Homo sapiens: one gene and its partner. The protein of the gene in region 2 interacts with the protein of the main gene of each other region in a pairwise test. Each region holds a gene or a part of one and is shown on either strand. Other genes may lie near its edges.

Region 1 (3,998 bases), on a different chromosome or scaffold from region 2:
TTAAGAACCAGCTCTGCCTAATCTAGCTGGAACCTCAGGCAAGTCAGGCAGCTTCCTGAGTCTCAGTTTACTATGGATTAAATGGTGATAATAACTGTTCTGGTTGTCTCTTTGCCAGGTAACTCAAATGCCATCTATGAGCACCCTGCTCATTGTAGTTGCTCAAAATATATTTGTTAAATTGCATGATAAACATGAAGATTCTTTACAAAGCACTATAAAATGCAATGTATTACTAATTCTCTTTTTTTAATGAAAAAAATCACCTAAGTGACCTCCATTTTTCTGTTTACTGCCTATTACTAAACTATTTTCTTCAATCTGGGTATGCTGACTCAACCAGAATAACAGTGAAAATGATAATTCAAACTAATACTGTTTACAGGGAGTTAAACTTCTACAGTGGGATTAAAGGTCTGTACCACGTTAGCACAAATGTCACCTCTCTGTTAATCATAAAACAGGGTCACAGGCCAATGTTCACCACAAGGAGACAGGAGGACAACCTGGGATGGGTAATGACAAAGAACGATTTCCGTACTCCTAAGCCTCTGCTCTCTCAGATCTCAAGCCAACTTTTTTCAGTGTGATGGAAGTTGTTCACATTATATTATTAAATGAAAAACAAGTTTCAGAGAAGTATGCAATATATACTGTCCTCCTATTTTTTAATTAAAAAATGATATATACCCATACTGTTTTTGTGTCTATATAAACAAAGAGTAACAACTCTGGAGTTACCTCTGAAGAATGGGGTAGGGTGGAGAGATTCTCACATTTCTTTTCTTTTTCTTTCTTTCTTTTTTATTTTCTGAGACAGAGTCTTGCTCTGTTGCCTAGCCTGGAGTGCACTGGCACAATCATGACTCACTGAAGCCTCGTCCTCCTGGGCTCAAGTGATCTTCCCACCTCAGACACCAAGCAGCTGAAACTACAGGCGCCTGCCACCATGCCCAGCTATTTTTTTTTTTATTTTTGGTATAAACAAAGTCTTGCTATGTTGCCCAGGCTTGTCTTGAACTCCTGAGTTCACGCGATCCTCCCACCTTGGCCTCGCAAAGTGCTGGGATTACAGGCATGAGCCACTGCACCCGGCCACATTTCATTTTATACATTCTTTATCACGCACTTTATTACATATGTGTAACAAGTAATATGTATATAAATCTGGAGGAAAGTTGTATTAACAACAGAAGGTAACCACAGAAAAACAGAGCTACAAATGACCTCAGAGATACCTGCGTCAACCCTGTCACTTTAGAGATGAGGAAACTAAAGCCAGAGAGACTATGTCTGATGTGCCTTCTAAGTTGTGATGTTCTAGGATTGCAAGTTACATCCTATTGGCTTATGACTTAGAATTCTATTTCTAATCCTTCAGCAAAATAGCAGGTAGAATCCTATGGTATGGTTCTTTCTGCCTTCCTTGAAGATGTTCTGTGAAAACATAATTATTTGTAACATGGATATTTAATTCCTGGAGAAATAGAAGGCAGCAGAAAGTTCATTTGCTTCTCTATGTACAAGACAAATGGATTTTTAAGGCAAATATGAGGAGGCTTATTTATTGATAGCCCATGATTTCTAGGCACTGCATGCAGCACTTTTGTACATGATGCTTAAAGCTGCCAATAGCTTCATTATCCACCCCAATGTCCCAGTGACAAGTGCAGTGGGATGATCTAGGGCAGTCCTAGGACAGCCTGATTTCCAGTGCCCTTTAACACACGCGGAGCAGCCCAGAACGAGTCCTGAATGGTGCTCTTTCCTCTAAACTTGGAATGAAGCCAAAGGACCTCTTAGATATTCAACATTTCCCCATTCCCTGCCCCAGTATCTCTGGCTCTAACCTGGGCCTGGGTGCTACCCAGATGTGCCTTAGCTAAAGTGATGAATAGCAGGGTAGCAGAGTTCAAGCTCTGGTGCATCCAAATTGTCTAATGGAGCCCTAGGTAACTATTTAAAGAGAAGTTATTTTTTAAAAAGGCAACATATTCTCACAATGCCTATTTTTCAGATAGTAGAGCAAATGTATCAAAATACACAACCTTTTGATTCCTACTATCTTAAGCTGTAGGGTCTTCACAGTGTCTGGGGCCAGCAGGAAATGTTCTAGAAAGTGTCAAACATGAAGGGTTTGGAAATTCATAATCAAATGATGACTATGCTCTGTGAAGTTTCCAACCCTGTTGCATTTCCTCATTTGAGCAGTGGGTGAAGGCGAAGGGCAAAATACTCCAAGGGTTTGTTTCTGTGACAAAGAAACTTCAGTGTCGGTACCAGTAGGTGTGGGAAGAGAATGTAGAAAATGACATAAGGCAGTAGATATGTAAATAAATCACTAAAATAAGTAGTTGTTATGAAAAGAGAGTTGAGAGTTGAAATGAACAGGAATCTCAAAAACTGATTAGAACCTAACGATAGGAGTGTTCAAGTTGTTTTTCCTAGATCAGAGACTCACAAGGGCCTCATTCAGGTAACACAAGTAACTGGCAATCAATCTTGGGCATTTTGCCACCTCTCAAAAAGTCAGGAAAGGTGTGAATGAGCATTTATACTTAGAGAGAGGAAAACAAGCATTTCCCTCCAAGCAGAGCCATCATGTTTTCAGCCACCATCAAGTTTTTCCCGAAAACAAAGGCAAACCAATCTTCCCTTCTATAAGCTTAGTAGTATTATTAACCCCTTATTCACTGGTGCTGTCCAGGTATACAAAGGAAGCTTTTTTACTTACAGTTTGGGAGAGAAGAGTCCTCCTAGATATCAAAAGCTGTGGGTGAGGCAGCAGCTGCCAAATAAGACAGATCTTTGGTAGCACACAATTTTTATAGACTTCTCATCATGTTTTTTTTTTCCAATATTTGCCCTCCCCTTTCTACCTTGACCTAGTAGGGAGGTGTTTATTCAACACCTCTGATTGGCTCATAAACAACCAGTCCTTAAAATCATGCCCATATACTCCTTATGCTCATAGAATGTTAAAGCTGCAAGGAATGTCTTTAGACCGTGGAGTTCCTAATCCAGACCCTCCATTTCACAGATGAGGAAACTAAGGCAAGGAAGATAAGGAGGTTCCCTTAAGTCATACAGCTAGTCAATGATGGAGCTCTAGGGTCCATTAAATGATACTAGGAAGAATGTTAGTGTAGCTGTAACACTTACAAAACACATGAACTTGGTGACGGGTTTTTGGTTTTGTTTTTTACTTGTCTGAGCCGTTATTTTCTTCTCTGTAAAGTGGGATCTCAATTTCACAGGAGCATTAAGTGAGTTGTATAGTGTCTGTACGCAGTAGGCATTCAAGAATTATTATTTCCAAATTAGGTAATCAATGCTATATTTTCATTATTTATCTTCAGTATATCATTAGTAGTCAATTCCAACAATTTATTCTATAATTTATAGTTAAATTTAAATAATCTTTCAATAAAAGAAATTGATTCTGAATCCTTGAATTTCCCATGTGTGAATTTTGTCCAAATTGGAAATAAAATTCAAAACATTCTGTTTTTAAAAATCATTGTCTCTCCCATCTTCTCCAGTCCTCCAAAACCTAGCTGGGCTTTCTGATGTATTTAATGCCAGAAATCATTGTTTTGTATTCCCATTCTCTTTTAACCTTTGTACTTTTGTCTTCAAATTTGGTTAAAAACTAGAATTAAAGTGATTGAACTAAGCCATCAACACCCCTAAATATGGTACTGTCTGGGTATGGGTTCATTCTGCAGGGCTTTTTCCTAAGTATGAAACCCAAATTTAATTCCAGAAAAGGTAAATAAAAATATTATATGCTTCCAGAGGCAAATGATGAATGAGGCAAATAAATGAGGGAAATCTAAAAGTGATGGAATGACCGTAATTACAAAAAAGGGTAAATTCTCATGAACATGTTCCTCTGGAATAATTCATAAAATGGAAAACAAAACTAAGATGCTTGATTGTGCAGAGTGTAACACCAGAATTTATGGATGAAAAGGTGAAATGTCAACAAAATGAAG
Region 2 (3,500 bases):
GCCCCTGCAGGGCAGAAACTCATCTAAATCTTTTATTCATCTATTTGTAATCGTTGGTAAAGGCTCAGTAACTATTGTACTATCTTCAATGAAATACTTGGTCTTATTTGGTCCTTATAATATCTCAATGATTTTATTAGGCATTGATAGTCCTTCCTGAAAACTGATAACACAAGTTTTGAGAGACCATATGTTTGTCTATGGCTGTACAATAAGCTAAAGATGATGCTGAATTTGTATTTTATAATATGACTCTGGAGAGCTTACTTAGAAGAGCACATCAGAGTTAGGCCCCTTGATTACAAGAAAGATATAAACAAACTAGAGGGAGTTAAAGTAAGAAGACTAAACATGATTAAGCTTCTGGAGTGGTATGAGGAAAAATCAAATGAATTAAATATTTATAATCTGGTTAAGTAAAGACCAAATGGGGAGGCGAGAGTGATTTATAGCTCGAATTATTGAACACATTTCAGCCCAGAAGAGGCAGTGTCACTGAAAAGGGTATGCAGGAATCAAGAGCCAGATGACAAGGGTAATGGAAAGAACATTTAGAACAGGACTATCTCAGATGAATTGTAAAATAAACTTTTAACAGTAAAACTGATATGCTGCTGAAAACTTCCCCAAGGGAAACAGTCACCAAACCATCCCTGGAGATGCCTCAAACCAGAGAGAGAAAATAACCAGAAATTGTCCTGCAGGGAACAGCTCTGCCCAGACATTAAACATGAAAGGAAAAGCTTTGCAGATTCTTCTCTCTAATTTGTATTCTTCTGGGATCCCATGAGACTGAAAAAAGATGCAGGAACAATGGATTGAGGACTCTGGGTGCAGAGGGTTTGCTTAGATGTCTCAGCCTTGGCTCACATCTCTAATGAGTCTGCACAGAAGGCAACACACTACAGAGGCCTCTGCAAGTACATCTGAGGCTTTATTTCATTCAGGGGTCTTCATTAGCCTGTCCCATGGGAGCAGGTGAAAAAATTATAAACCCAAACAAAAATTGGGGGGGATGGTGCACAAAGCACATACGTTTGTTTGAAACCCACAGTTATATATGCCATAAATGTAACAATGATATTGGGCCTATGTATTTTACCATGTTGGAAATATACCCAAATTCAAATGATCATATTAAGATTTTTAACTCAGATTTGGTGTCTACCATTACTACTCTGTGTTTCTGTTATCCTTTAGTTCCATTATATTCAGGGGATTCATAAGGAGCCTCAAATTAAGCCTGGCATCCCAGCATCCTGCTTCCCTGTAAATGATTCTCTATAAAGACACAATAAACAGGATAAGGCAGGATACTAACATGGCAGGACTTGCTCAGGGTAATCAACAATGTTACAGTGACTAAGAATGTCTTTTCCAACTCAAAATCAGTGTACATTTTGGGAAGGTGCTTAAATAAAGCCTAGGCCAGAGTCAACATGGTAAAGTATTAGGCGACAACTTCCTGAACATTAGACTACTGATAACATCTATGCCTAAAAGCAAAGGGTTGCTTAGTAGAAGAAACAGAATAACTACCAATAATATTAAGGTCTAAAAGCAAATGTTGCTCAGTTGAAGAAACAGAATCATAGAATTGTCTTGCTGACATCACAAATAGCTAACAAATTAATGGAAAAAATGTTCAGACTTATAAGCAATCAGGAAAATGCGAATTAAACCCACAATGAGAAGTTACCAGATGCGGGCAAATTAAGCATATGAAAATACCAAGTGTTGGCAGAGGCATGAAGCAAAGAGGCCTTTCATCTGCCCCTGGTGGGGGTTTCAGTAACTGCAACATGTCTTTGCCTCCCGGATGAAAAGATACCCTTCTATGACTCAGCAATTCCACTCCTAGGTATGCACCCTAAACATGGTGGCAAATTTGTGCTGGTGGACATGCACCAGAATGTTTATGCCAACTTTACTAGCAATAGCAAAAAACTGAATTTCAAAATCCATCAACAATAGATTAGATAAACTATGGTTAATTAATATCATGAAGTATTATACACCAGAGAAAGTGACTGAAATACAGCAATATGAATCCACATAGATGAAACTCAGATACTTAACGTTCAGCAAAATTGCAAGTCAGAGAATATACACATTATATTTATTTTATTACTGTTAAGAACAGCCAAGTAAAGTAACATGTTAAAGATGTATACATATGTGGAAAAACTGTACAAAAGGCAAGGGGTTAATACAAAAATCAGAAAACTGCTAGTGGGTACATGGGTATTTGTTATTATTACATTATTATTATTGTTATCATGATCATGAATTGTATTATTAATTATACCAAACACTATATGTATAGTACAGTTCATAATTTAAATAAATTATATAGTGTTGAAACTAATAACTAGAGTTGATCTAGTCCACATTCTCATTTAATAAGGAAAAATACGTTGTACAAAGTACAAGTGACATCCAAATTAATATCAGATGCTACAGAATCATTAGTTAAAACTAATTAGATATTCCTCTAATAAGGGATTCAGGTGCTGTTTTCTAATCTCCTCTCCTACTTTAAACACAACCCCAACAAAACTTAGTCCCCTATGTCTTAACATCAAAACTAAAAGAGAGAACTGCTTTGAGGAAGTTTTATACAGGGAGAAGTTTCAGCTGAACACAAGATGTAGACAAAATATATTTTATAGCCAGAGATAAAACTCAACAATAGTAACAGTCCATGGTCAATTGATGGGAAAAATAAACAGTTCTGTATGATGCAATGCCTTCAAAAATTATCCCTATAAAATCACATAATACTATAATGAAGTCATAGTGATGTATTGTATCTATTAAGAACAGGTTAAATTATGTTCTACATACTTTTAAAGAGGCAGCTAAGTGAGTGGAGAAATATTTCTAAAAGACTATAGAAAAATAAGTAAAATCTAAAAATGTGATTTGAGTTAAAAACATTTATATTAACTGCTTAACTTCTTTTTTCTCTTGTCAAAATGTAAACACAGATTTAAGAACATTGTAGATGGCCCAGAATAATGTTGTATTGACAAGTCCTCTTATCAGAACACAATTCACTAACCAGTTGGTATTTTCATCAGATAACATCCTAAAGATTCAGTTAATTCAGTGGAACATGTTTGTCCTAGATACTCTTAGGAGTAGCCTTCAGGCAAGAACCAATATTTAAAGGATGAACCAGGAAGAAATCTCCAAATTGCAATAAATACTCCTGTTAAGTTTCATCATCATAACCACAAATGGTTTTAAAGGGTCTTCCTCCCTGGAGGGCCATGGTGAAATGACTGAGCAAGCTAAAAGTCAAAAAATTTGGATTAGTGAAATTAAGCTAAAGTATATCACGAAGTAGAAGTAGATCATAGACACTGGGCTCGTGGAATTTACTAGAAAAGAGAAACATTCCTACAGAAGTCATGCCATAAGAATAGCCTTAAAAATATGATCAATAAATATGGAATGATTTGTGTGTTTCCTACTTGAACTTTTCCCCCCAAGAA

The links. Proteins that work in one complex are often made in the same cells at the same time.
Region 1: the proteins of DCC (region 2) and ALDOB interact in a two-hybrid assay, tested with the Homo sapiens proteins (one large-scale study listed by BioGRID and IntAct).

What each region holds. Positions count from the first base shown.
Region 1 is NC_000009.12:101,432,975-101,436,972, forward strand, and holds the start of ALDOB (fructose-bisphosphate aldolase B), read right to left. Parts: upstream 2,801-3,998; 5' UTR 2,735-2,800; intron 1-2,734. UniProt on the Homo sapiens protein: Catalyzes the aldol cleavage of fructose 1,6-biphosphate to form two triosephosphates dihydroxyacetone phosphate and D-glyceraldehyde 3-phosphate in glycolysis as well as the reverse stereospecific aldol addition reaction in gluconeogenesis.
Region 2 is NC_000018.10:52,346,697-52,350,196, reverse strand, and holds part of DCC (netrin receptor DCC), read right to left. Parts: intron 1-3,500. UniProt on the Homo sapiens protein: Receptor for netrin required for axon guidance. Mediates axon attraction of neuronal growth cones in the developing nervous system upon ligand binding. Its association with UNC5 proteins may trigger signaling for axon repulsion.